Linked DNA regions of Homo sapiens. The protein of the gene in region 6 purifies or fractionates together with the protein of the main gene of each other region. This does not show direct contact. Each region holds a gene or a part of one and is shown on either strand. Other genes may lie near its edges.

Region 1 (4,228 bases), on a different chromosome or scaffold from region 6:
TAGGAAATGACAGGGGCTTTTTCACGTTGATTGGCAGTGGAGAGACTCTCTCTGGGCAGGTGACATATGCTGAGACCTGAATAACAGGAAGGAGTCACTCATGCAGACATGCAGGGAAAGAATACTCCAGGCAAACAGCTGTTGCTGCAGTCCTGAGGCAGGAGCAAGCCTGACGTGTTCAAGGTAAGGCTATTTTGTCTGGCGGGAAAACCACAGAACAGTTGTACTGTGCTAGCTACCTCAGCAGCTGTGGAGGTGACTACCCCAGCGTTACTGGAAAATGGTCATTTCATGTCTGAATACTTAAGTTGAAGGAAGAACACCATTTTTAGAGCTACCTAATGCTTCCACGGAGTTTCTCATGTGGGGCTTACAGACTGATGGGGTCCTATCAGAAGGCTTCAGAAGCTGGCTTAAAGGGTCTTAATGGCCAAGTCCAGACACTTTGAGCATCAAAAAGCAACAAAGCGATAGATTATGATACACAGTTTTTAAGAATTGTGATTTCCTAGTCAAAGAAGCAGAGAAAGGAAAAAAGCTCTTGTTTATAGAAGAATGCCTGCTAAGGTAGAAAGAATGATAGAAAAGGACTGTTTTACAGATTCTAGCATAATCATTGATTTAGGCAAGGACAATTAATAGATCCTGAACTCTTTGGATGAAAGTTGTTGAAGAATAGGATATTCAAAAAATTCCATGACATGAAAAACAGAAGGTTGGAGAGATGCTGTTATAGTGAAGTATTTAGGAATGGAGTGATACTTTGTCTGCAGCTAACTCTCATCAAAAGGTTCATTTTTAAAAAGCAGTGGGGTGTGTGTGTGTGTGTGTGTGTAGAGAGAGAAAGCAAATGTGGCAAGAAGTTAACAGTGAACCTAGAAGGTGAACTGTGTGTGTGCATTAGAACTTTTTGTGTGTGCGCACTTATAAATGTTGAAAATTAATGAGCTGTGATGCCATCTCCAAAGGAAAAATAAGTAAAAATAAATGTTGAAAATTAAAAGTTGGAGGGAATGCTTATTTCTATTTTAAACCCAAATCCAGGCTGGGCGTGGTGGCTCACGCCTGTAATCCCAGCACTTTGGGAGGCCGAGGCAGGCGGATCACGAGGTCAGGAGGTCGAGACCATCCTGGCTAACACGGTGAAACCCCATCTCCACTAAAAATACAAAAAAATAAAATAAATTTTAAAAAACCCAAATCCAACTTACTAATATTTTTTGCTGTTTGATGTAATTGTGCTATTTGGAGCTCTCTGATAGATCCAAATTCTCCCTTATATGGTGATACTGGTAATTTTTATATTACATCTTTTTTTTTTTTTTTGAGATGGAGTTTCACTCTTGTTGCCCAGGATGGAGTGCAACGGCGCGATCTCGGCTCACCGCAACCTCCTCCTCCTGGGTTCAAGCGATTCTCCTGCCTCAGCCTCCCGAGTAGCTGGGATTACAGGCATGTGCCACCACGCCTGGCTAATTTTGTATTTTTAATAGAGACGGGGTTTTTCCATGTCGGTCAGACTGGTCTCAATCTCCCGACCTCAGGTGATCTGCCCGCCTTGGCCTCCCAAAGTGCTGGGATTACAGGCGTGAGCTACCATGTCCAGCCATCTTTTTTTTTTTTTTTTTTTTTTTTTGAGTAGGAATCTCACTCTGTTGTTCAGGCTGGAGTGCAGTGGCAAGACCTTGGCTCATTGCAACCTCTACCTCAAGCAGTTCTCCTGCCTCAGCCTCCCGAGTAGCTGGATTACAGGTGTGCACCACAACACCAAACTAATTTTTGTATTTTTAGTAGAGACGGGGTTTTACCATGTTGACCAGACTGGTCTCGAACTCCTGACCTCAGTGATCGCTGCCTCGGCCTCCAGAAGTGTTGGGATTACAGGCATGAGCCACCATGCCTGACCTATTACATCTATTGTGTAGGTACTATGATATGCCATACATTGTGCAGAACACATGGCATGCATTAGTTAATCCTCCTAACAGTTCTTGAGTTAGTACTCATTTCCCCTTTTAAAGATGAAAAGACAGATGCTTAAGAAGATATCACTAAAGCAACAGAAAAAACATTTCATCTTAAGAATGAAAATGAATTTGTTAGACAGGCTAGAAAGAATATTCACTGATGAGAAAGCACAATAGAAGAATTTATTTTATTTTTTTCATTAGTTATTTAGTTTATTATAAAAGAGAAATATGGAAATTATTTACATGATGAAAGATTTCAGAACTTCGGTGGAATGGGCAGCTTCATGTTGATGCCATTTCAATAGTGACTTATTTCAGTTTACGTACTTTCCAAGAACGTCACCATCTCTAAATAGGAAATAATCCTTGTCATCTAGAACTACTTTGGTGCCTCCATGTTATGGGAGAAGAACTTTATCTCCAACTTTCACACGAACTGGTTGAATCTCTCCACCCTTTCCTTTAGAACCCGATCCAACAGCGACTACTGTTGCTTGCAATACTTTTCCTTGAGATTTTTCTGGAAGCATAATGCCTCCTTTGGTTACAGTTTCAACAGCACTCCTTTCAACCAATACTCGGTCAAAGAGTGGAAGAAACTTAAACGCTTGTCCTGCCATGACTCCCTCCACCTCAGACTCGTACTCTGCTCTAGTGTCAAGAATTTATTATAGTGTTACTAGGCATGCATGTTTTTCTGGCCTTGAACTTGTCCTACATACAGCCCACCCTGGAGAGGCAATCTAGTATGGTGGTTTAGAGCACAGTCCGTGAAGCCTGAAGCCAGAATGCCTAGGTTCAAATCCCAGTTCTACTATCACAAGCTGCTACTGCCTTAGAAGGACTTCTCCAGGATTCTATACTGGGAACCTCTGTTGTATTCGTTTCCTATTGCTGCTATAACAAATTACTGCAAACTTAGTTGTTTGAAATAACATTAAGTTTATTATCTTAACGGTTCTGGAGGTCTGAAGTCCAAAATGGATGTCACTGGGCTAAAATTAAGATGTCAACAGGGCTGCATTTCCATTTGGAGGCTTAGAGGACAATCTTTTCTTGCTTTTTAGTTTCTAGAGGCCACTCTCAGCCTCTGTCTTCAAAACCAGCAACATTGTATCTCTCTGTGTCTTTGCCTTTCTTCTATGGGAACCTCTTCCTCTGACTCTTCTGCCTCCCTCTTCCACTTTTGAAGACAGTTGTTACCATATTGGGCCACGGTGATAACAGATAATCTAGGATAATCTCCCTATTTTAAGGTTAGCCTTATATTAGGCTGATAAGCAACCTTAATTCCATGTACAACTTCAGTTTTCCTTTGTAACCTAACATATTCACAGATTCCAGGGATTAAGGCATGAATATTTTTGGGAAACCTTTTTTTTTTTTTTTTTTTTTTTTTTTTTTTTTTTTTGCCTACATATCTATGTTTAAATTCTAAAGTTGTGTAAGGCAGCTGGGGCCAGGAGAAGATTATTCCAAAGTGGAGATCCTTGCCAATCCTGAAGATGACTTGAGTAGAACCAGTAATTGGGTTTGAGCTAAAAGGAACTACTGGGTGGCGTATGTACATGTTTTTTATTCTCTTACTAGCATAAAATATATATAGTAAATTCAGCATTTTTTTTTTCTTTTTTGAGGCAGGATCTCACTTTATTCCCCAGGCTGTATGACAGTGACATGATCATGGATCACTGTAGTCTCAACTTCTGGTCTCAAGCAGTCCTCCTACCTCAGCCTCCTGAGTAGCTAGGACTACAGGCATAGGCCACCATGCCCTGCTAATTTATTTTTTGAAGAGACGGCGGGGGGGTCTCCCCATGTTGCTCAGGCTGGTCTCTAATGCCTGGCCTCAAGCAGTCCTCCTACCTCAGCCTCCCAAAGTGCTGAGATTACAGGTGTGAGCCACCACTCCTGGTAGTGAATTCAGTATTAAAGAGTGATTGAATTAGAAGGCAACTGAGTTTTAGTTACATCATAGGAAGGAAATGATTATAGTATTAGAATACATTTCTGTTGATTGATTGATTCATGCCAGCCCTCAGAGGAAAATGTTCTTGATTTAATTGCAATTTTAGAGAAACTTCAAGTTAAATTTTTTTATGTGTCTCCCTTGTTAAGCATTAATTTTTATTTTTATTATTATTATTTTTTACAGAGTTTTACTACCCTTGGATGCTGCTGTTGACATGGAAAAGATTGAGGAACAATTTGCTAATCTGCACATTGTTAAATGTTCCTTAGGAACCAAAGAGCCCACT
Region 2 (4,228 bases), on a different chromosome or scaffold from region 6:
TGAGAGGGTTAGGAGGAAGGTAAACAAAATAACCATATTCACTGTGGACGAAAGGCTTCATTGGCGGATATTTCTGGGCAAACTATTGTATATGGAAGATTAAAAAGCTCATCTTTGGCACCTTCGAGTGACAGTAATCAAATAGCAACAGAGCAGACGGGTCTATGTCTTGCTCAGTGGACCCATCTTCTGCTAAGGCATTACAGTATTCCCTCAGGGCAAAAGCTTTCAAATTTGTAAATTGTGATGCGGGCATTTGTCTTCCAACAAAAATATATTAAGAATGTCAATATATATATAATTGAATAAACATGGAGCTGTAGGCGGAAGAGGAATGCTGGAGCCTTGCCCATGTGGGACTCTACTCCAATCCCACAGTAGTCCTAGAGTGCAGAGACAGCTCCCAGGGCTTCCGGGAGCAGTCTGAAATCACTGCCTGGTAGAGGTTATTTGAGGCAGGGAAGCAAAATGGCTGCAAGCTGGGAATGCCCCATTTTTGGCAAAGGCCTCTGATCTCCTCCTTCCTGACTGGGCCCACTCAATCACTTTATCCCCACCTTGTACCAGACCCCACTCACGCGTCTGTGTATCCAGGAAGCTTTTTCCGCCACTTAGGTTTTTTCAGAGGCTGTCCATCATCATCCACAATGAAGTCGTCAATATCTGGGTAGGAAAAGGATGGGTTGGGGCTCAGAGTCAGGGGCTGAGCCAGGACTAAATTGCTTTGGTTCCTACTATGTGAGTGGCCAGTGAGCAACAGAGAAGGGAAGCTCCTGAAAAGGAACTTCTTTGTGTCAAATGCTGGGGGATGTAGCTAAAGAATGGTTTCCATCCTGTTCCCATGGGCCAGGAAATCCCAATACCCATCCAAACACTGGCTTCCCTGCCCAATATAACATACCTGACTCCTCATCATCTTCTTCCTCCTCCTCTGGAGGAGCCATGGGGGCCTCCATGGCCTCCTGCCCTTCTTCCCCTTCCCCATCCTGGAAGATTTCTTCCGCAATAGCTTCTTTTTCATGTTCCTCCTTGCCATATTCCTCCTCGTCATCGTCCTCGTCATCTGACATTTTTTTGACACGCCGGTACTTTTGCTAGGGGTGGGAAAACCTGCCTTATCAGGATCTGAGGAGTCTGGCATACGGATACCAAATCTCCAGTCTCACTCCCTTCTTCCCACCACAATTACTCTGACCAAGAGAGATGGGAAAGAACATGCCGAGTGATGCTCTTGTAGCCTCAAAGCCCATCCTTGAAACTTGGACAAGACTTTCTCTAACAGGCACCCAGATCTGGGATGCAAATCTAGGCTCCGTAGTACAATGATACCGAACACCGTGCTCTAATGTTCTCCAAACTGTCCTGCGTGTGCCTCCTCACCCACAGACATTGAAATTTCCAGGGCTTTTTCCTTTACCCCCAGGGACAAAAGACAAAGAATGACACTTACTCCTCTTTTGACTTTGACACCCAAATTCTCCTCAATGAGGTCAAAATCATCATCCTCCAGGCGGTCATCAAAAGAGGCTGAAGAAACAAAGTGTTGCCCATGGTGATGGGGTTGCCCTTTTCCACTGCAACCTCCACCCAAGCCTCACTTGAGCCAACGACAGACTACTCACTGCGTTTTCTCTTCTTGTGGCCAACATCATCTTCTGAATCACCAGAGTCACTGCCCTCATCCTCCTCCCCTTCATCTTCATCATCATCGTCATTGATAAAGCCTTTCAAGTTGCCTTGCTCATCCTGATCATCTAGGTTCTCCTCCTCCTCCTCCTCATCTGGAAGACATGCATGTTTGAGGCATGGAGACTGAAAAACAGGCTAGAGGTTCAGGGTCACTTGATTAATGTGATTATCCATTTGCTCTGCACCTAATGACCTGGGTGCCATGTTAACTCTTCTGCCTCATGTAAAGATGCAAAACATAGCCATTGACTTAGAGTAGCAGCATCTGGAAAGAATGTTTTCTTCCCCTACATTCACCATCTGTCTTTGGGCAGGATGATCTTCCCCGTCACTTTGGCTTCTCAAAATCATTACTAGATTATTATAGCCACCAATAACTTTGTTTTACTCAGTTTGTAAACTCAGCAGCTATATTCCTTTTTTTTGCCATAATTCCTTTGATAAAACTTGTACGTCCCTTTACCCCTTTGAAGTCATTTCGTGGTTCTACTCTGTTGACAATTCTAAAGATTGGGCTTGGCCAGAGAAATAGGAAACGAGGTGAATAAATATCAACAATGCTAGGTCTAAAAGCAGAAAGTATTATATACAGACTTATCTACTGATTTATTATCAACCACCCCCCAACTAAAGTAAACTCCACAATAGCTGGATATTTATTGTTTTATATTTCTAGTTCCAGGCCTAGTGCCTGGCATACAGACAGATGCTCAGTTAGTATCTGCTAAGAATGACTGAAAGTTCTCAAGCTGGTACCTCATGTGTGATAACTTCTGTGCTGAGCCTGAGCTTTTCATCAGCAAGAATCCAACTATCCAAAGCTTAGCAATAGTGGGGAGAAGCTTGAGGCTGGGGCCTCCTCACCATCATCCTCCTCTTCCACAAATTTCTTGGTGACTCGGGGTACCACCTCGCCTTCATCATTGTATTCTTCCTCTGACTCCTCAGCCTCGCTTTCCACAAAATCAGACATTGCTGCAGCTTCTCACTCTGCCTGAAGATAACTAGGGAAAGAAAAGAGTGAAGGATAAAAAAACGGACACATGATTGTACAGAGGGCTCTTAAACCTTCCCACAAACAGCCTTTTAGCAACCTGCCACTGCTCTGCCCACTCAACATTCCCACTTGGGGAGAAGAAAAGAAGAATCTGATGGTTCCAACTCTTCCATTATCCATTCCTCCCAGCATTGCTTCTCTCATATGTACTTTTTTTTTTTTTTTTTGAGGTGGCGTCTCACTCTCTCACCCAGGCTGGAGTACAGTGGCGCAATCTCCGTTCACTGCAACCTCCACCTCCTGGGTTCAAGTGATTCTCCTGCCTTAGCCTCCCGAGTAGCTGGGATTATAGGCATGCGCCACCATGCCTGGCTAATTTTTGTACTCTTAGAAGAGATGTGGTTTCAACACGTTGGCCAGGCTGGTCTTGAACTTCTGAACTCAGGTGATCTGCCCACCTTGGCCTCCCAAGGTGCTGGGATTACAGGCGTGAGCCACCGCACCCGGCCTCATACGTACTTTCAAAAAGAAGGCAAAAGCCAGGCTACTCAGGAGGCTGAGGCAGGAGAATCTCTTGAATCCGGAAGGTGGAGGTTGCAGATTGCGCCACTGCATTCCAGCCTGGCGAGAGAGTGAGACTCTGTCTTAAAAAAAAAAGCCATTAGGCCAGGCGTGGTAGCTCACTCCTATAACCCCAGCACTTAGGGAGGCCAAGGCAGGTGGATCACCTGAGGTCAGGAGTTCGAGACCAGCTTGGCCAACATGGTGAAACCCCGTCTCTACTAAAAATACAAAAATTATCCGGGTATGGTGGCAGGTGCCTGTAATCCCAGTTACTCTGGAGGCTTAGGCAGGAGAATGGTTTGACCCCGGGAGGTGGAGGTTGCAGTGAGCTGAGATTGCACCACTGCACTCCAGCCTGGGCAACAAGAGCAAAATCTGCCTCGAAAAAAAAGAAAAAAAAAGAAAAGAAAAAAAGAAAAAGAAGGCAATTATACCAGACTTGTATATGTATCATCTCTCTTCCCCAAAGTTTTACCTCACTTACCATTTGAAGACAGGAATGGGCAAATGAGGAAAGAAACTAATGTAGGGACAATTAAGTGGGGATATGGTGGTAGAGTGAGATTATGTGATCTGCTTCTAGGAGGCTTGGAAACAATAAGTGCCAACTTTATAAAAGGTGCTTTCATATGTTTACATACACTATTCATACTTATTAGCAAAGTCAAAAGCAAAATCTCTTTTCAATAGATTAAACACACAAATACTTCATGAACTTGAGCCAATTTGTGTGAGTACTGGTTGGGAGCATTTGGGTCCAAAAAGGGCCTAGTTTTATCATTTACTCCCCTTGCAGGCAAAAAATCTTGAAAGGCTTCCATGTCCTACAAAATAAATGCAACATGGTTAAATGGAAAGACTGCTGGGCTCAAGAGTAGAAATCAAATCCTGGTTTCATACCCTACGGGCTAAACATAAACTTAAGCAAATTATTGGACATGCCTGAATATCACTTTCTTAACCTGGAAAATGGTAATA
Region 3 (3,335 bases), on a different chromosome or scaffold from region 6:
TTTTATGGACGGAGTCTCGCTCTGTCACCAGGCTGGAGTGCAGTGGCACAATCTCGGCTCACTCCAACTTCTGCCTCCCAGGTTCAAGCGATTCTCCTGCGTCAGCCTCCTGAGTAGCTGGGACTACAGGCACATGCCACCACGCCCAGCTAATTTTTGTATTTTTAATAGAGACGGGGTTTCACTATATTGGCCAGGATGGTCTCGATCTCTTGACCTCGTGATCCTCCTGCCTCAGCCTCCCAAAGTCCTGGGATTACAGGCATGAGCCATGGTGCCGGCCTTTTAAAGCATTTTAAATGGCATTTAGCCAGAGTTTATAATACTAATCCTAATGGTAACACATATACATTCACCTAAGTTGTGTCACAGGTAACGTGTATGTTAAAATATCTGCACTAAGCCCTAGTACATATGGATATGTAGAAAACAATACACACACACATACATACACACACACACACACACACACACACACCTTTATTTAAAATAAGGGAAAGCACCGTCACTCTTGGGGAAAAAGTCCTCACCCCTTTCCTTAGCCACGCATGATACACGAGAGGCTCTGTCCTTGAATGAATGGTCAACAGAGAATTCTCACATAGTAAGGAGTGTTGATTAATAATTAAATAATGACATCCACAAGTCAAACTTGAGCTGTTTTAATCAGATAATTTTACACATAAATTCCTAGTTAGCCAGATTGATTTGGTTATTCTAAATGGCCAAATAAATCTGCAACACACCACAATTATTTCTCCCACACATGATGAATAGCTAATAATTTTAAAAACCTATTGCCATACAGAACCATACTTTCTTACTATGTTATGCCCTGGGGGTTCGCTTCCACATGCCACATTGCTATCATGCTTTTCAATGAATTATGCATTATGCACGTCAGAAAACTTTAAAGAAACAAGCAAAAAAGTATGAAAAACAATAATTCATGTATTTTATTATAAAAGTGTGCTTTATTGTAAGGAAAATTTAAATATAACCAACAATACTGAAAATAATGTACGTGGCATTTATAGCCTTGGTCAAAGTTCTTTATTAAACAGGCGTTTGCTGTTCCATGAATAGTTAACAATTAGTTTATGCAACAAAATAGATAACTTGAAAAAGTGAGTAAGAATACAGAATGATGAACCAGGAATCTGGAGTTCTTTTGTGTTTTTTCTTGTTTAACAGACATGGCTTTTAAAATAAAATCTGAAATATAAAACAAGTCATCTTCATGTAGAGAGCTCTCTTTTCCTACAAGAAGGTTTTGCAAAAATGTTAAACAGTGTTCTAAAAATGTGGCTGAAGTTATACTTTACATACTTTAACTTCTTATATATACATTATCCAATTAACATTCTAACCACATTTTCATATACAAGTGGGACCATAAACATTCTCTAGTAAGACTACACTAGCACAGAGTAATTTTACCCATGTATATATATTCATTTGAAACCTGTTTCCCAAAATGAAATCACTCATTTAAAAGCAAACAACTGGTTAGAATTAATGTCTCTAGACACTGGGTCATGGGGCCTAGAAATCATGTAAGAGTATATTGCTTTGGTTGAATATAATTAAATTCATCTTATGTGGCAGCATACTGAGCATATCAATGAACAATGAAAATCTAGTACATCTGAGTTCTTTCTGCACTAATTTCAACTATGAGTCTACATTAAAGCAATGGCAAGGCCTAATGGTATATATGGTAAGGTCAGAAATTCATTTTGTCTTTATATAGGGTTATGCTCATAAAAATTTGTTTCTATTCCTCTAGAGGATGTTTTTAAGAATTAAAAAAACCAAACAAACCCATATTGGCTGCTGATCAATGAGATTGTGGGTTGGCAACCATCCTAAGAAAGAACGGAAACCCAAGGGAACAGATGTCTACATAGGACTGTATTATGCAGGCCTAGTGAAGAACAAAGAAATAAACTGTGGGCATGCTGATAAGGATCCCACATTATTTTTGGGATAGGAGAGATTTTTTAGGTGTAAAATCTTAAAGAATACAAAAAATGTCGGATCTTAAGTTTAAATCACTTTTTAAAAAAACAAAACTTTGTGACATTAAATGTCAAGATCAAATTTTTAAAGACATAGAATACAGAGAATTGCAAAATAAAAAAAAGCAGATATATGCTTGATGAGGGAAAAATGCATTAATGATCTCTCATCTAAAACACTGTTTTCCTTATTATCATAATGACTAAATTGCCTGTCCATAAAACCACTGGAATATGTATGTTACTGACATTATGCCAACAAAGTCAAAATGTACTTTATTGCAAAAATATAAAAAGTTTTAAAACTGCATATGATATTTTATACCATTTCACCAATAGGCCAAGGCCAGCACATAACTTATCAAGCTAGAAAACTTTAAAACAAAAATGATTAAAATTTTACTGTGTTTAATGAGTTATAAAAAAAAGTGATGCCATGCTGTGTAGCATGTTTAATTGCCAAGTGCCCTCTTACATGGGGATAGTCACTAATATGATTATCAGTCTGAATAAGTAAAACACATATAGCCTATGATAACATCCTTTAATTATCTTCTTAAACACAGATACTTTCTATATATTACAATCATTTTAATAAACCTTTCAGTCATAATTTTGTGGAGTACAAAGTCATTTTATCAGTATGTTGATTTTTTTATGAACTACTCTTTAGAAAGTGATGTTAAAGCCTATTGACTATTAAATCACTACTGTTTATTGATACGTTGTAAATGTAAAAAAAGGAAAAAACCTGAAATCACAGAAAATGCTTGGCATCTACACAAACACATTCTCAGTGGACTAACCACTACTGTGTAATTTTGTCACTACAGGTCTTGCTCCATACTTTTGCTTCATGCAGTGGGTTCAACAATATCCATGTTCGTTCCAAACAGGGCAACTAACTGTTCTTCATAGGTAGCGATGTTCCTTTTCATAATTTCCATGCAAGGTCCCAGAAGCCTTTCAAATGCTTGCACATCCATTGCTGAGAAAAGAGAAGATTTTTTTTTAAATAACATTCTTTGCAAATCTGCAGAATTTCTAAGTCATTTACAATACCGACTCCATATATATCAATAGTGCAATGATATTTTAGGTAAATACTATAAAATACAAGAAAAAGCATAATGATAAAAATGTTCCACTTGAAAAAGGAAGCAGCCAGGGCCACGCTCTTGGACCACACTCTGCAGTCCCTCGGCAATATGATGAGCAATGCTAAGTTGGTGGGAGGTTCCTGGTCCAAGCTGAGAAAAGAATGAGGGACTATCATGGAAAGACCTTAGAATTTTAAAAAATAAATGTGCTGTC
Region 4 (3,788 bases), on a different chromosome or scaffold from region 6:
AATCAAGGGTCAGACTCTCCTCATTTCTCCGTGAGTGCTGCTGACTCGGCAGTCCGGCAGCCCTCTCTACACATTCCTGCATACACCCTCCTTTACTGTCTGTCTCCATCCTACCTTCACACTTTCCACTGAGCCGTGTGTGCTGACTACTCTAGGAGGGGTGGGCAGTCCTTCCTGCCAAGCCTGGGTTTCTAACTTTGTGGCTACAAAACTCCAGGGAGTTTTGTAGGAAGGGAGAGGAGCAGGAAGGGGGAAGAGAAGTTAACATGCTTTAAAAAAAAAAAAAAAAAAAATTTTTTTTTTTTTTTTTTTAAAGACAGGGTCTCACTGCGTTGTCCATGCTGGTCTTGAACTCCTGGGCTCAAGTGATCCTCCCGTCTCAGCTTACAGGTGTGACAGAGGCTCTTGATTAGGGAAACTGTCTTACAAATCGGAATCTGCATAACACCCTGGGATTCCAGTGTGAGTGCTAAGGGTCCTCATTCCTCCCACCCTCCTACAAGGCCACTTACCACCAGGGCTCAGCTCGGTACTGAGGAGCCGATCCATCGTGGCAGGTATAGCAGTTAGGGGTAAAAAGAAGAAGAAAAAAATCCATGAACATCAGCCTTAGTGGCTTAGCAGATTTTTTTAGGAGTGTGAAATTTATCTGTGTATTACTAGAGAGCGAAAACATCATTCACTTATTAAAAAAAAAGAGAGGAGAAAACCAGAGTCCTATGAAAATGTTTTTAATTTTCATCTTTTGGAAATACATTTTTCATTTTTATTTCCACCATACAAAAATGTGAAATATCTAACAATGATCTATCTGAAGCGGGTGGAGCAAAGCAGCGCCATGAGCGTTTGTCGTTGCTGTGATCTGTTTCAACGGAGAATGGGCTGGGACATGTTGTAGATTTGCACGATTTCACACACACACACACACACACACACACACACACACACACACACACACAGACACGTACGCACACACGCTGCCGTACCCCGAGACCGCCATCCAAACAAACGAACAGAGACTCTGGAAAGTGAACACAGCGCCACGCATAAGAACAGAAGTTAACCTTTTTACTCGTACATCCCCCATGAGAAACTCACGTCTTAGGAGAAAGGAACTCTACATAAATATGCCCAAAGGCCAGGGCATACGGCAAGCCCTCTCATGGGTGGGCATGAGTGGACATCTTCCTGAAGGAAGGACAAGCTTGAGAGCGTCATGTTTTCAGGCAGCTATGGTGGGAAGCAGGGAGGCACAACCGATTTTTCCACTGGGAGACTAACCGAGGGCTGCAACTGCCTCAAAATCTCAGTGCGAGAAGATGCACAGGCAGGACAGTACACCCCCAAATTCATGATCACAGCAGCTGGAATGTCAGCTCTTTTTGCAGATTTCACAGCCGACACTCCCCATCAGGCAGGTTCTTAAGCACACTGGGTCATGACAGGAAAGGCCTCACAAGAGCAACACGGAATTCACTGGTTAAGCACGTACACATTCATGACAGCCTACAACCGTGATGAGTGTCAATGTCAACAGGCAGTTAGATTAAAAAGGGGAAAAAACCACAGCCACAAAAATAAAACCTGTTTTCTCCCCCCCAGGAGACAACTTGGTTTCCAACCCCTCCCATACCACATTTGATTAAGTTAAATACAGTGCGGCTTCCAAATGTGCCAGCCGGCTCTTGCTCACAGCGACAGCACCAGCGGTTTGCTGCCCTCAGGTCTTGGTTACCATGTGTCAGGAACTTCAAAGAGTGTGGCAGGGCTGTTCTTCGAGATGCTTCCTGGTGGGAAAGAACAAAACAATATGAACAGCAGGACCAGGACGGCACCTTGAGGAGAGCATGACATGACCAGCAGACAGACAGAGGGCCTGTGACGGCTGCAGACGGGGCCAGCGTCTGGCTAAACAGCTGCGCTGGAAAGAGTCCACAGACAGGTCTTGTCTAGGGAGGGCAGTGCCCAGCATGGGAAAGTGAAACCACAGAAACATCATGGGGGCGCGGAGGAAGCACCTCCCTGCCTCCAGCATCTATCTATTTATTTCACAGGAGTTAAACTGTAGCCATGCACAGTATTCCTCACTGAACACCATGCTGGATTCTTTGTTGGCAATACAGCGGGCATTTAATTCATATAATCTTCATTAAAAGCCCACCAAGGTGGTAACACTACCCCATTTTACAGATGCAAGAACAGATTGAGAGAAGTGGGGTAATATGACCAGATGTACAGAGCTAGCAAGTGGCTGAGATGGGGTCTGAATCCTCCCACAGCACCAACATCCCTGCCAAAGTCCCTGGAAACTGAGTTTCTCTGTGCTGTGCTGTGGCTCTGCCTAGGTGAGAAATCTCAGGTGGGCAGCTGAAGGGCAGAGGGAAGCCAACCAGTGGGGGTTCCAATATCTCAACAGGGGCAAAAGAAGGTTGCAGCTTTTTCCAGCTTCGGTGAAGCTGGCTGGGGTCCTCTTCTTGGATTGAAAAGATCTCTTCAGTGACAAAGTTTCACCCCAATGTCAGAAGCCCTTCTTTTTTATTCATGCCACTTTCTACAATACGAGCAGCTGCGGCCAGCAACTGAGCTGGGACTGGACTTCAACGAATGTGAGGGAAGTCAGGAAAGAGCATGTTCATAATGGAAAGTGTGGCCCGACCAGGCGTCAGCTGCACAAGTGGTGCCATGCATTAAGTCATAAAGTAGGGCTGACGGGGGAAACTGGCAGTCTCTCTTCTAGCTGCTAACACCAAGATTTTAGAAAGGGAGAGAAGTCTTTGATGATACCTCCAATGGGAAATAACTTTTAAATACAGAGGGGGTGCAGTGTCTTACAAACTAGGGAATCATATCACTGAGTTCACAGTGGTTATCATCAGTAACAGGGATGCTTAAAAATAACGAGGTCTGAACACAAGAAAAAACATGAAGAGAATTTCAGCTAACATGAGAATTTCTACTTCTGATCATTTACTGTGATAAGATCCAGGGAGTTAGGGTGAGGAGACCGGGAAAGGGTAACCGGACTCTTTCTGCCCTGGGTCTCATCGCTCTGAACAGGCACGTTCTGGGACACCCAGTAAAGATGGCGAGACCACTCTGGAGAAGTGAAGATGGGCAGGAGATGATCCACTGAAAAGGACTCATGGGGTCCAGTGAAGTACTGCAAGGGGCCTGTGATAACCTGCAGCTAGCCTGGCCTTCCCAGTCCCACAATGATACAATAAACACCTAACTGTATGAAAAGAAACATCCATTAAGGGCACTTTTATAATTCACATATGAAAGAAATATTGCAGTAGCCAATTAGCCATTCTAAAGGTAAAAGCTACAATGCCAAATGTGGGGAACTGAAGTAAATTAAATCCAGCTCAGAGGAAAAAGGAAGATAAATTGCTAAAAGCAACTGCACTGCAATACTTGTAATCTGCACCTGCCAATCTGCACCTGCCATTAGTTGGGGGGGGGGGTGTGTGAGTGCACAGTGAGCCACCAGACACACAGGAAGTGGTTCCATGAAGAGCTAACAGGAAATAATGGAATAAGCAAAAAGTTCTGGAGTAAGGCAAGTCAAGTTGGACCATTTTACTAGCTGGATGACCTTGAACAGGTCTCACTGCTTCGTCTAAGATGGACCCAGTACTATTTTATGCTGTATAGGACTTCTGTGATACAGCAAAGTTGCTGGGTAAGTTTTTAATGAACGCTAGGTCTCTTCCCCTAATCAATAAGCTGATCCAACATGGAACATGGCTGTTCCCCAGAAAGCCAACAGTCTATAATCAAAAAGA
Region 5 (4,228 bases), on a different chromosome or scaffold from region 6:
TGGCATTCTGCAGCTGGGCCTTCAGATCTTTGATGTCCTTTCGTAGGACCAAGATGTTTTCTGACTTTCCATATACCCGGAACTCTTCCTGCTTCCCTAGCTGGTTCTCCAAGGGCTTCCTCTCAGAGGAACTAGCCAGTGTTGAGCCCCGGCGTCCCTGCTCAGAGCACAGCCCCTCCATCAGGACCATTTCCTTGAGGCTGTTGTGCTCCTCACACTCTGAAAAAAGACAAAGATGTCTTCCTAAATAAAAGTTGGATGTGCTGTTGTGGCCACTGCCTTTGAGAGGAGGCAGGTTTGGTCATGAGGACAATAATTACTAGGGAAAAAGTTGAAGTAGTACTTTATTCAACCCTGACACTGTACTAGGCATTCAAATACAATATTTCTTATCTTCCTTATACCTACAAGTTAGGTTTCATCACTTTCTATTTTACTGACTGGGAAACCAAAACTTAAAGAGAGGTGGTAAACTAGCTTGTTCTAGATCACTCAAACTAGCACATGGCAGAGCCAGAATTCAAATCCTCCAATGTCCTGTGTTCATTCCACACACACTGGTGTTTCTTAAGACATTAACATGGCCTTATCTATTTAGGATGGCCACAAGAATGTAGGACAAGCTATTACTGCATGCTGAAAGTTTAATGCTCTTTAAATTTTACTATAATTTAAAAGTTTATTGGGTTACAACTGTATGAAAAATAGGCATAGGAAAATAAGGCTTCAAATAAATATATCAGCATGTTAACATCAGTGTATTAGGGCAGTGGTAGTCAGAATGAGAACTAATCCATGGCATTTTACCAGATGCCAGGCACTGTTCTAAAGCATTTTATAAGAATTTACTCATTTAATTGACCTTAGTACCTGATGGGGTAGGTAGTTCCTTTATTACTATTTTAACACATGAAGAAACTGGGACATAGGAAAGTTTTCAAACTGGGATTTGAACCAACCAGTCTGGCCCCAGGATCTTGTCTCTTAACTGCCACACTACACTGCCTCAAGAATGAGAGAGATTGTGTTTTTCTTCTCTTCTGGTTTTCAATGTGGTGGGTGGCCCTATAGTTGTAGTCTTTTTATAATGCAAAACAAAATTATTTTTAATTTATGGCTTGCATGTTTCTAAAACCTTATCTGGTCTCTAAGTAGGCCTTAGTATTTCTATAATAATCAGTTGGATAGAATTTTATATTATTATTGTTATTAGCAGTATGCCAAAAACTAATTGTAGAAATTCAAACTTATACTCAGCCTCATTTTGGGTAAGATTTCTCCTATTAACCTCCTGTCCTCCTCTTCCCCAATACTTGTCAGGTGTGGAATTGGCCAACAGCATCCAAATGTGACAGCTGACTCCAGGGAGGGGTGAGCCCCACACCCTGTGCTCTTACCAGGACTGGTGGTTTCCTCCCGTTCAGCCTCATTCTCGCTTCGGCCACAAGTCTCATAGCCCAGGTCCTGGAGGTCCACCTGGATCTGCTTGCTGTCCTGCTTCACCAAGGATTCACCTGCTTGGGAAGAGAAGCAGGTGTTACAGAATGTCTGAATTTCCCACATATGCCCTCAGCCTCAATGGCACATACCCTAACCTTTTGAGGCACGGAAGGCAGATCCACAGTGGGAGAGAAGCTTCTCTGAACTGGTGGGAGAAGAGATCACCAGCTCCAGGAAGCAGAATTTCTTTCCAAAGGAGGAGCCTGCATTTGCCATTATCTCCCCTTCAGATAACCCAGGCTTTAGTTGGGACCAGATATCTGTAAGTCAGGGATTGTACACTATCATCTCTAGCAGCCCCATTGAAGCTGGCAAGTGCTTTATCCGCAGGGGTTCAATAAATGTTGAATGGAGCTGAACTAATTTAGAGTCCCAAGACCCTAGACCTGTACTGTCCAATAAGGTAGTTAGCAGCCACATATGGCCACTTTATACTACATCAACTAAAATTAAATAAAACCAAATGTCCAAGTTGCACTAGCCACACTTCGTGTGCTCAATAACCACGTTATGTCGGTATAGAACATACAGAACTTATAAGACATATAGGCTAGTTTTCTTTACTAGTAAGTCATAGTTACTTACTAAGCATAACTCTGTATTTCTCCAGCTCGTTAGCCTGAGCAAAGACAGTGGCTTCTGATAGCAGCAGCTTCTCCTGGAGATCTTGATAGCGTTGTTTGCATTGTGACAGCTGGGAGCGCAGGTGCTGGGTGGACCCTGGTAGGCTAAACGCTGACTGAGGCCCAGGGTCACGAGGCTGGGACTGGTTATCCAACTGTGAAAGGGGCCAATACAGGGATCAGGACAGTCTGAGGTCACCCCCATGCAGTGACGACCACCGCCCCTTCTGAACCCTGTGGACTTTACTCAAGTCTGTCACAGCACTTCTCATGCCATTTGGCAGTGACTTGCTTTCCAGATGGAGCTCCTGGAGCGCTGGGATAATGTTTTCTTCATATCTGTATCCACAGCACACAGCACAGCACCAATCAAGTCTACAGAGGAGCTCTCAGGAAATGTTTTCTCAGTGGTCAAAAAGAGACCACTCATCTCCCCTCACATTCTGTCCCATTGATTCTCTCAGAATCCCTGTATTCTCCATTTCACTGAATCTTCAGCATGGCTCCTTCCCTAAAGAGGATCCCAGTAACCCATCTGAAGCCCAGGAACAGACACCTGTGATGAGCTGTGACAAAAAAATGGCAGTGATAAGGGATGTCATTACATACCACTTGTCTGGGCTGCCTCATAACCTGATGCATCCCTATGTTACAGCAGTTACCACATCCTGTTAAAATTACCTGTTTGTGTGCCATCTTTCCCGACAATATTAAGTATCTCAGGGGCAGCCATTGGTTTTATTGCCCCATGCCAATGCCTAGTGTGTTATCTGAAAAATTAAGTACTCAAGAAATATTTATGTTATAAAAGCCTTTCTAAAGGCTGAATGTAGGCAGAATATTACTATTATTGTTTGTGGTACAAAGAGACCCTTCTCTTGGTACCTCCTGATTCATATGGGAGAATGTTTTAAGGTAAACACTGTCATCTCAAGCCCTTCTCCAATTGTTTTTCACTCAATCTAAGCCCACACTTACTTGGTGGGCATCCACTGTGAAGGTAGCCCCAAGGTCAAGGCTCTGGGGTCTGGGGAAAGGCCTCACAGTCACATTCCCCTCCTCTTGGTGTTGGTGCTTCCCAGGGGAACCAACCAGTTCTGTGTTTATTCTTTCAATGGTGCTGGTCAGATGCACAAGGAGCTCTGGAGTAAGTTTACTATTCCCTTCCTTGCTACTCAGCACAAGTTGTTCTTTGAGGAGGTTGATGATATTGTGGGCATTCTTCAGTTTTCCCTGGAGCTTTCTGAACTCAGCCTGAAGGCTACTCTCACTCAGACCCTCTTTGGTTACCACAGTCTCAACCATCACCTCGCCCTTCTCCTTGTCTTCCTCGATCTCCCATCCATCAGACATTGCTTCTCCCATCTGCTCTTTCAGCTCCGCATTCTCAAGGCAAAGGCTCAGCATGGTGTTCCTGCAGGAAACACACTTAATTGAGGGCTAGGTCTGGTCCTCACAACAGTTCCTAATACTACCTCTTACCAACATCTCAGCCCGCAATTAACTCAGACTTACCCCAGAGCATGAAGCAACCTGAGACCTACCACAGCCCCCTAATTTTATATACAAGAAAGCCAAGGCTCAGGAAAAGTAAGAGACTTGCCCAAACTTCCACAGCTTCTTGGTGGCAGCACCATCACTAGAAACCTTGGACTCAAGACATGCAGGCTAGTTTTCTTTACTTGTGCCCCATAGCCTCATATGTTCTAATTTTTAGTAGCCTCTGGAATAAACCAGAGTACTTACACTGTTAAAAAATAAGACCTTTTCTGTAACAAATTTATTGTTATAAATTTTACAGTTCTATTATTTATCATCAGTCAGTTTCAAACCATTGGGACTTAGGAACACAGAATAAATAAATAACACTAATCAGAACTATTAATATAATCAAAATGTACTTAGATAATTGTTTGCTTTATGTCTGGCTCACGTGATAGAGATAACCTTCTTGAGAGCAGGACTGTGTCTGTCCTATTCATCCCATATCCCCAGTACCTACACAAGTGCCTGCCACATAAATCATTCATATTTGTTGAAGAAATAAAATTGACCAAAACAGCTAATTTGCACCAAGACATTCCAGATAAATTCTTTCCACAACA
Region 6 (4,228 bases):
TGGCCTTCCTTGACTAAACAATTTTCAGATATTAGAATCAATTTTCCAGAATATTCACTGCAGTAGATATTCACTTGGCTATTACTAATAATGTCCACACTTAACATTATTTTCTACCATGTATAAGCTCTGTTAGGTCATTTACTGCCTATGATTGGAAAAGCTGAATGTATGTGTTATGTTTATATATTCTTAAGCTCCAAATCAAGAAGATCTCATGTTTCTTTGTAGATGTTCAGGTCTTTTTTCATACGGGTTGTGTAATATGAGTGTGATTTCAAGAATTATTTAGTATTTTGCTTTTTCAGTGCAGTTTTCCCAGGAATTTTGTTTTAAAATGAAAAAAATTGTTATTTTCTGCAGATATTTCCTCTATCATCGCATAATACTGTATTTTTTGTATCCTAGCTCTCTGATGTCAATCAGTATTTGATAAATATTGATTAATGACATAGCTCTATATTACCATGGAAACAGAACCTCTTTTCGACTCATGTAGGTCGGATGGGTAGAATATGGGCGGAAGGTGGTATTTGCCTTTTAGGCTTTTTTAGTCTGTATCGAAGGCTGTGTATGTGACGGTACAGGACATGTGATCTGATTTGAGTATACCCAAGAACATTTGAACTGTTTTACACATTATGGGAACAAGTTGTGTTTGTAGATGAAATGGAAGAATTTATTGTCCTTTAAGCATTATCTTGAATCTTCAGGTTATTCATTTCTCTTTTAGGTAACTGGATTTTTGAAATGCTGTATCTACTTTCTTATGTCTTGTTTCTCCTTTCATGTAATTTTTGTTCTGTATGGAGCACCACTGATAGAGTAAGTTTGAAATTTTTACCCTAAATTTATATTTTAAAACATTCATTTACCAAACTGTGTGCTAATTCTTAGCAACTAGAGAAAAACCATGATGTGCATCATTAATAGATCAAGTAAGGACACCAACATCATTAGCAGTGTTATTCTTTTTTAAAAAAAACAGCAGAATAACTTAATTTATTAAATACTCTTGTTACCTAGCCTTCTAGTATCCAATTGCATGTTGAGAGAAGGGAGAGTAGAGAAACTATACTATACCAATAAGTATTTGGCCCTTAGAACCTCTGAAAGAACTTACTATGATTATATGTGTAAGTTATAATTAGCATATCAGTTCTTATAAATGTGATTCTAAAGTACTTGAATGGAGTTTTTCTTAACAAAAGTCAATAGATTCCTGTATTCAAATACTGAATAAGCTGGTGTTTATAGTTTAAAGGTAAAATTTAACACTTTTTCTGAACTGACAAATTTCAAATTCTTAGAAACAAAATTCATGAATGTTTCTTACATAATGTTTATCATAGTTTGAGAAGCTTCAGTTTAGCAGTGATTAATGATCATGGTGAAATGAGTGATGAGATACATATACATATACACACACATATATTTGTGTTGCTAAGTATACCATTTTATATATATATATATATTTATACATAGTTTTACGTACACACACTAAACTGACAGGTTATTCTTTTCTAGATGGGAGAGAACAAGACCTTTGTAATGGAAAATGGTGGTTCCTGTCTAATCCATTTTAAAGCAGAATGAATGTGTCTGGCACAGTGGTTCTCAAAATGTGGTTTTCAAACCAGCAGCATCAGCATTTTATCAAAATGCAAATACTCAAGCTTCAGTCAGAAACTCTAGGGGTAGAGCCCCCACCAATCTTTAGTTTATCCAGCTCTCCAGGTGTTTCCAATATATGTTAACCACTAGTTGTAGAGAACCACTACAACTAGTATTCAATAGTGGTTCAATAGTGGTTCAATAGTGTATTGAACCACTAGTTGTAGAGAAAGTTCCAGAGAGACTATTGAGCAGAAAGCTAACTATCTAGAAATGGATTTTGTTTGTTTGTTTGTGTTTGCAGTGAAAGTCTCAGCATGGATCCTAGGGTCTTTAACACTTCTGAAATCTATCATTAAAGCGAAATACTTGCTAGATTGTTTTTTAAAGCTACATGTTGGTGGTAAAATTATTTATAGTCATCATTTTGGTGGCATTCATGTTACCTTTCAAAGTAAAGCATAGGAAGATATTTCACATTTTATTTATATAATAAAGATTATGTATGTGTATGTTTACCTTTAACACTTTTTTAAAAAGTAATCTTTTTTTTTTTCTAGGTTGGCATTGGAAACATTTTTATTTGCAGTTATTTTGTCTACTTTTACTACTGTGCCTTGCTTATGTTTGTTAGGACCAAACCTCAAAGCATGGCTAAGAGTGTTCAGTAGAAATGGGTAAGTTTTAATTTTATATTATAATGATATTGAAATTAAAAAATAATTAATGAAGTATTTTTCTATTCATGGCAGTTTGCTGATTATTCTGAGTGCTTCTCATTGCTGATGGTGCTCAGAGATGCCTTAAGGGGTCACTGCAATTAGGGACTGGGGACAGGGCAGGCAGAACTACAAGCCCCTCCCTCCACGTTAGCAAGATCAGCTCTCCTTTTTTCTGTATGGTAGAATTCCACCTAGCCTTTTGTTTGTTTAAAAAAAAAAAGAAGAAGAAGAAATAAAAAAAAATTCTACTATTAAAAGAAAGCCTTGAAAACCATGGTTCTGGGATAATTTGGCACTGTGATAAGACTGCTGTAAATAAAATTGCTTACATACATTTTATAAGGTAGAAGTGGGGTCCACAATCTAAAAATGTGTTGTGTAACAATGATAATTTCTTGTTTAGCCTTTTTTGTGATAAGATACCAGAGCTCAAGTTTTATGAGATTTCATTTCCTTGGTGGCCGTATATATTTTCAGCATGGCTAAGTTAAAATTTTAGCTTCTTGAAAGTCATTTAAATGATATGCACCAGAAATAGTGGAGATCTAGCTAAGAAAGCCAGAAGGTTATTTGATTCTTTCCTATTTATCACCCAGCAGCAAGAACTTCTTGAGCACTTAGTCTGTGCTCTGTGTTATTGTGTTATGCTAAGCTGTGTGTGGTTTCTGAAGTATTAGGAGGAATCTTTTTTTTTTTTTTTGAGATGGAACCTCGCTCTGTCGCCAGGCTGGAGTGCAGTGGCATGATTTCGGCTCACTGCAACCTCCATCTCCCAGGTTCAAGTGATTCTCCTGCCTCAGCCTCCCAAGTAGCTGGGACTACAGGTGCATGCCACCATGCCCAGCTAATTTTTCTATTTTTAGTAGAGACAGGGTTTCACCACACTGGCCAGGATGGTCTTGATCTCGACCTCATGATCCGCCCGCCTCGCCTCCCAAAGTGCTGGGATTACAGGTATGAGCCACCACACCCGGCCTTATTAGGAGGATTCTTTTGCTGAGGAGCTTATCTGTTCAAGGGACAAAAATGAGCAAATAACATCAGATTACAAATGTGTAAATCCAGCAATAAGTGGTGTAGGAACTCAAAGGGACAGAGCATCAGTAAAGAATGGAGGGGGAGATGGGAATGATCTATGATGGACTTAAGTCAAGAGTATATGATTTGGTGAGACCAAGAAGGAAGAGAAAGGCACCTCGTGCAAGGAGAATGGATAAAAGCATTGAAACTGAAATGAACAGGGTATTTTTGTGTGATTTGAAAGGTAACAGCCCAATGAGAGCAAAAGATGCATGCTGAGTAGCTTGGCTTCATAAATTACCGACTTATTCCCTTTGAAATCAGTACTGTTTGGGACGAGTGTGGTGGCTCACGCCTGTAATCTCAGCACTTTGGGAGGCCAAGGCGGGTGGATCACCTGAGGTCAGGAGTTCAAGACCAGCCTGGCCAACATGGTGAAACCCCATCTCTACTAAAAATACAAAAATTAGCTGGGTGTGGTGGCGGGTGCCTGTAGTCCCAGCTACTTGGGAAGCTGAGGCAGGAGAATTGCTTGAACCCAGGAGGCGGAGGTTGCAGTGAGCCGAGATCGCACCACTGGACTCCAGCCTGGGCAACATAGTGAGAATCTGTCTCAAAAAAAAAAAAAAAAAAAAAGGAATCAGTACTGTTTTCCCTTGGAACCGTCTTCTAATATTCATAAAGTCTCTAGAAAACAGAAGTGTAACAACTGAAAGCATTTTCTACATTATTACCATAATATCCCAAATGGTATTAATTGCTTTTAGCCTTTTAGTTTGAAATTTTTAAATAGTGAAATTGGATTGAAATCTTATTACTTTGGATTAGTGATTTCTCCAGTTTTCAAGTCTATGTCTAATAATGGGTGTATT
Region 7 (4,228 bases), on a different chromosome or scaffold from region 6:
CTGACAGACCTAGAGATGACAGTCTCACACAGTAATTTGGAACAAGCTGCTCTCAGCTGCCACAGTGGCTCCCACTGAGACTGCGGCATCCAGCTCCATAGGGCTGTGCCTTCCTCACCACCCTGGCCAGGTGGCAGGAATCGTCCCTCGGTTGTGCCCCTCCCTCACGTTGGGCCTCTTCTGTCCCCTCCCCAGGGCCCCGGCCGCCTTGCTCCCAGCAGCTGTCTCTGGGGTCTCTCTGCCTTTGCTAATCCCTCTCCTCTGCAACTTCCAGGCTGCGAGGGGAAGGGACCATGTCTGACAGTCATACCTGTCATTTTATCCCCAGCACCTGGCTGATGACTTGTGCACGGTGCCATGTGTCAACCCTTCCTGAGACCCTGAGAAGGAGCCCCTGGCGCTGTTCTGGAATCTCCCTGTGGCTCTAATGTATTAACGTGGTTCCATTTATCTTTGGTTGTTCCAACCTGAAGGACCTCCTACTTCTGGCCAGGCCTTGGGTAGAAGAGGAGATACAGAGATGAGAGGAACTGATGGATCCTGGTCTCAAGGAGGCAGACTAGGGTGGTGAGGGGGAGGTGGCACTAGGGTAGGGCCCCAGGTCTGGCATTTGCCAGGTTAGGGAAGCAGAGCAGCTCAGAGCCCAGGGGTGGGCAGGGGCCTGTGTGCTTCTGGTTGGTAACTCACTGCAGGGAAGGCCAGTTGGGCCTGCTGGCTCGGACCTCGTCAGGAGCAAGCAATTGGTGGGAAAGAAATAGTCCCAGTGCTGTTTTGCCTTTATTGCTAAGTTTGAAGTTTTGTAACTCTCTTTGGCATTTTTTGGTCCATTTTTCAGAATTAGATGCAGTTTTCCCCCTGGTTTAGCATTTCCCTGATGCTTTGGATTTTGTATGGCAGCAATGCTGGTCAACATGCCTGCGGAGCTAATACCTGGGGCTTCCAGTGCTCCCCGGACTGCCTGGGCTCAAATCCCACAGCCATCACTCACTGGCTGGGAGACCTGGACCAACTGCGTCCACTCCCTGGGCCTGTGGCCCTCATCTGTGGACTGGGGGTACTGTGAAGATTAAGTGTTAAGACACTAAAGAACCCTGGGAGGGTGGGACATGCGTAAGCACTGGCTCAGCCTCCCACTGTCGTGCCGCTTCTGCCAGACCAGTGCGCCTGCAGATCTAACCCAGAGGCATCAGGAGCAGATGCAGGGGCCACAGGGCAGCAGCCACGATGAACCACCATCTCTTTCCACCGCTTCGTGCCTCGGGCCCCTGGCGTTTCTTTTGTCCTGCCTTCATTGGTTGCTGTGCTCTCACAGGCCTGGATCCAGGCTACCGAGGCTAGGATGAGGCCTGTAACCCCACACTACCATGTGGCAAACAGCCAGAACACCGCAAGAGACGTAAGTCAAGCCACACTGGCTGGGAGCTAATTTTGCATTGTTAAAAAGCAGGATAACACAGAAAATAGAACGGACAGGAAAGCTTTCACATTGTGCAAATGTGAACTGGTGATTAGAAGGTTCATTTCAATCAGTTTGCTTTTGACAATTTACTTGGATCTGGAAGAAACATTTTAAATCTACAAAATTACTGTCAAACCCAATAGGCAGGATTGAAAAGGAGTTAGAAATTATAAACAAATAAACCAACAAAGTCGGGGGTAACAACCCCAACCAAAGATATCAGAAACTGGATGAAGATGGCTTAAAGGCACATTAAAAAAAAATCCAAAAAAACAAAAAAACCCAACTTCTCAAACTGGGCAGAGGCAGCTGATAACCAGCCCAGGGGAAGAGTGTCTGGGGACAGCAGGCTGGCACTCTGGGTGCTGAGGGGAGGAGGCTGAAGACTGGTTAGAAGCTAGGCCATTGGGCACAGCCCCCAGGCCCTGGCTTCCCTGCTGAGTCAGGGGTTGGGGTGGTGGTGGTAAGGCAGCCTTTCCCACAAGTGTAGCCTAGGGGCAAGGGCACACTTCAGCCTGTGTGGGTTGAGTTCTGGCCCAGCTTCCCTCTTGGAGTGGTAGATGCTGCTTCTGGGGGAGCTTCACAAAGAGGGCAAGAGAGGGAAGAATCTGGGTTGCTGTGGGTCCACTTTGGCCCTAGGCCACTCCAGCTTCCTTAGGTGCTAAGATAGCAATTTTCTTTCCTTTTTTTTTTTTTGAGACAGAGTGTCACTCCATCACCCAGGCTGGAGTGCAGTGGTATGATCTCAGCTCACTGCAACCTCCACCTCCCAGGTTCAAGTGATTCTCTTGGCCTCCCCAGTAGCTGGGATTACAGGTGTGTGCCACCATGCCTGAATAATTTTTTTATTTTTTAATAGAGGCAGGGTTTCACCATGTTGGCCAGGCTGGTCTCAAACTCCTGACCTCAAGTGATCCTTCGGCCTTGGCCTCGCAAAGTGCTGGGATTACAGGTGTGAGCCATCGTGCCCGGACAAGATAACACTTTTCAAATTGAAGATGTGAAAAGCCATTTTGGTAAACTGCAAATGCATTAAAAAAGATTCCTATAGTGGGTGGGGTGGTAGCACACATCTGTGGTCCCAGCTACGTAGGAGGCTGAGGTGGGAGGACTGCTTGAGCCCAGGAGATCAAGGCTGCAGCTGCTGTGAGCTATGATCGCACCACTGTAACCCAGCTTGGCTAACAGAGTGAGACCGTGTCTCTATTAAAAAAAAAAAAAAAAAAGATTATCATTGAAGACCATTCAAAGAAGAAAAAGACATTGCACAGAAAGTCTTCACAGGCAGAGCACATGTAATCAGGATCCAGGCTGTTTTATAAAACTATGGTTTCTGCTCCTAGCAACACAGATATGTGTGTGGGTTGGTGTGTGCATGGTAGGTGTGGGCAGGTAGGTGTGCACACACACAAGTTGCTGCCTGAGACAAGGCCCCACCTGGCCCAGGGGCATGCCAAGTGCTACTCTGGGGTCTGGGCAAAGCTGTGGCTCTCCTGAGGGCTTCTCTGGCAGTTGGGGACCCCTAGAGAAAGGCTTCTCTCATGGCCCTGCGGGGCTAGCAGCTCCCAGACTACATATGGGGGAACCTGGTGGTCCTGGCCAACAGCTTCTCCAGATGCCCTTCTGTGTGACTAGCCAGTGCCCTGCAATTCACAGCCTTGGCCCAGCAAGGTGAGGAGTCCAGGCACTGGCTTGGCAGCACCTCACTATTTCTGAGTCTTGGCATTGGGCATCCGCTTTTTTTTTTTTTTTTGAAAAAGAGTTTTGCTCTGTCGCCCAGGCTGGAGTGCAGTGGCGCAATCTCGGCTCACTGCAAGCTCCGCCTCCCGGGTTCAAGCAATTTTCCTGCGTCAGCCTCCCGAGTAGCTGGGACTACAGGCGGCTGCCACCACGCCCGGCTAATTTTTTGTATTTTTAGTAGAGACGGGGTTTCACACTCTTAGCCAGGATGGTCTCAATCTCCTGACCTCGTGATCTGTGTGCCTCGGCCTCCCAAAGTGCTGGGATTACAGGCGTGAGCCACCATGCCCAGCCTACTTTTTTTTTTTTTTAAGAGATGGGGTCTTGCTCTCTCTTCTAGGCTAGAGTACGTGGTATGAACATGGCTCACTGTATCCTCTTGGGTTTAAGTGATCCTCTGCCTCAGCCTCCCAAGCAGCTGGGACTATAGGTATGCAACACCACGCCCAGCTAATCTGCTACTTTTGTTTGTTTATTTATTTGAGACAGGATCTCGCTCTGTTGCCCAGGTTATTTATTTGTTTGTTTGTTTGCGACAGGGTCTCGCTCTGTTGTCCAGGTTGGAGTATAGTGGTACAATCATGATTCATTGCAACCTCAATCTACTGGGCTCAGGTGATCCTCCCACCTCAGCCTCCCAGAGAGCTGGGACTACAGGCATGTGCCACTAAAATTAGCCCAGCTAATTTTTTTTTTTTGACACAAAGTCTTGCTCTGTCACCCAGCCTGGGGTACAGTGGTGTGACCTTGGCTCACTGCAACCTCCACCTCCCAGGTTCAAGTGATTCTCCTGCCGCAGCCTCCTGAGTAACTGTGATTATAGATGCCCCGCCACACGCCTGGCTCATTTTTGTATTTTTAGTAGAGACAGGGTTTCACCATGTTGGTTAGGCTGGGCTCGAACTCCTGACCTCAAGTGATCTGCCTGCCTTGGCCTCCCAAAGGTGCTGGGATTACAGGCGTGAGCCACCATGCCTGGCCTAATTTTTTGTATTTTTTGTAGAGACAGGTTTTGCCATTTTGCCCAGG

The links.
Region 1: the proteins of PIGF (region 6) and WDR89 purify together in Homo sapiens (affinity purification with mass spectrometry; one large-scale study listed by BioGRID and IntAct). This does not show direct contact.
Region 2: the proteins of PIGF (region 6) and SUPT6H purify together in Homo sapiens (affinity purification with mass spectrometry; one large-scale study listed by BioGRID and IntAct). This does not show direct contact.
Region 3: the proteins of PIGF (region 6) and PRKAR2B purify together in Homo sapiens (affinity purification with mass spectrometry; one large-scale study listed by BioGRID and IntAct). This does not show direct contact.
Region 4: the proteins of PIGF (region 6) and PARN purify together in Homo sapiens (affinity purification with mass spectrometry; one large-scale study listed by BioGRID and IntAct). This does not show direct contact.
Region 5: the proteins of PIGF (region 6) and PDE4DIP purify together in Homo sapiens (co-immunoprecipitation; one large-scale study listed by IntAct). This does not show direct contact.
Region 7: the proteins of PIGF (region 6) and PACSIN2 purify together in Homo sapiens (affinity purification with mass spectrometry; one large-scale study listed by BioGRID and IntAct). This does not show direct contact.

Annotation. Positions count from the first base shown.
Region 1 is NC_000014.9:63,599,871-63,604,098, reverse strand, and holds part of WDR89 (WD repeat-containing protein 89), read left to right. Parts: exon of another isoform or gene 1-100; coding exon of another isoform or gene 101-183; intron 184-1,791; exon of another isoform or gene 1,792-1,921; intron 1,922-2,164; exon of another isoform or gene 2,165-2,628; intron 2,629-4,125; coding exon of another isoform or gene 4,126-4,156; coding exon 4,157-4,228.
Region 2 is NC_000017.11:28,671,836-28,676,063, reverse strand, and holds part of SUPT6H (transcription elongation factor SPT6), read right to left. Parts: intron 3,308-4,228; exon of another isoform or gene 3,206-3,307; intron 2,694-3,205; 5' UTR 2,663-2,693; coding exon 2,554-2,662; exon of another isoform or gene 2,446-2,553; intron 1,782-2,445; coding exon 1,623-1,781; intron 1,528-1,622; coding exon 1,451-1,527; intron 1,095-1,450; coding exon 902-1,094; intron 664-901; coding exon 579-663; intron 1-578.
Region 3 is NC_000007.14:107,159,123-107,162,457, reverse strand, and holds the end of PRKAR2B (cAMP-dependent protein kinase type II-beta regulatory subunit), read right to left. Parts: intron 3,010-3,335; coding exon 2,876-3,009; 3' UTR 647-2,875; downstream 1-646. UniProt on the Homo sapiens protein: Regulatory subunit of the cAMP-dependent protein kinases involved in cAMP signaling in cells. Type II regulatory chains mediate membrane association by binding to anchoring proteins, including the MAP2 kinase.
Region 4 is NC_000016.10:14,434,986-14,438,773, forward strand, and holds the end of PARN (poly(A)-specific ribonuclease PARN), read right to left. Parts: intron 1,788-3,788; coding exon 1,732-1,787; 3' UTR 716-1,731; downstream 1-715. UniProt on the Homo sapiens protein: 3'-exoribonuclease that has a preference for poly(A) tails of mRNAs, thereby efficiently degrading poly(A) tails.
Region 5 is NC_000001.11:149,000,900-149,005,127, reverse strand, and holds part of PDE4DIP (myomegalin), read right to left. Parts: intron 3,538-4,228; coding exon 3,102-3,537; intron 2,279-3,101; coding exon 2,086-2,278; intron 1,518-2,085; coding exon 1,398-1,517; intron 220-1,397; coding exon 1-219. UniProt on the Homo sapiens protein: Functions as an anchor sequestering components of the cAMP-dependent pathway to Golgi and/or centrosomes.
Region 6 is NC_000002.12:46,610,291-46,614,518, reverse strand, and holds part of PIGF (GPI ethanolamine phosphate transferase, stabilizing subunit), read left to right. Parts: intron 1-733; coding exon 734-825; intron 826-2,174; coding exon 2,175-2,291; intron 2,292-4,228.
Region 7 is NC_000022.11:42,871,657-42,875,884, forward strand, and holds part of PACSIN2 (protein kinase C and casein kinase substrate in neurons protein 2), read right to left. Parts: intron 3,875-4,228; exon of another isoform or gene 836-3,874; intron 804-835; exon of another isoform or gene 329-803; intron 1-328.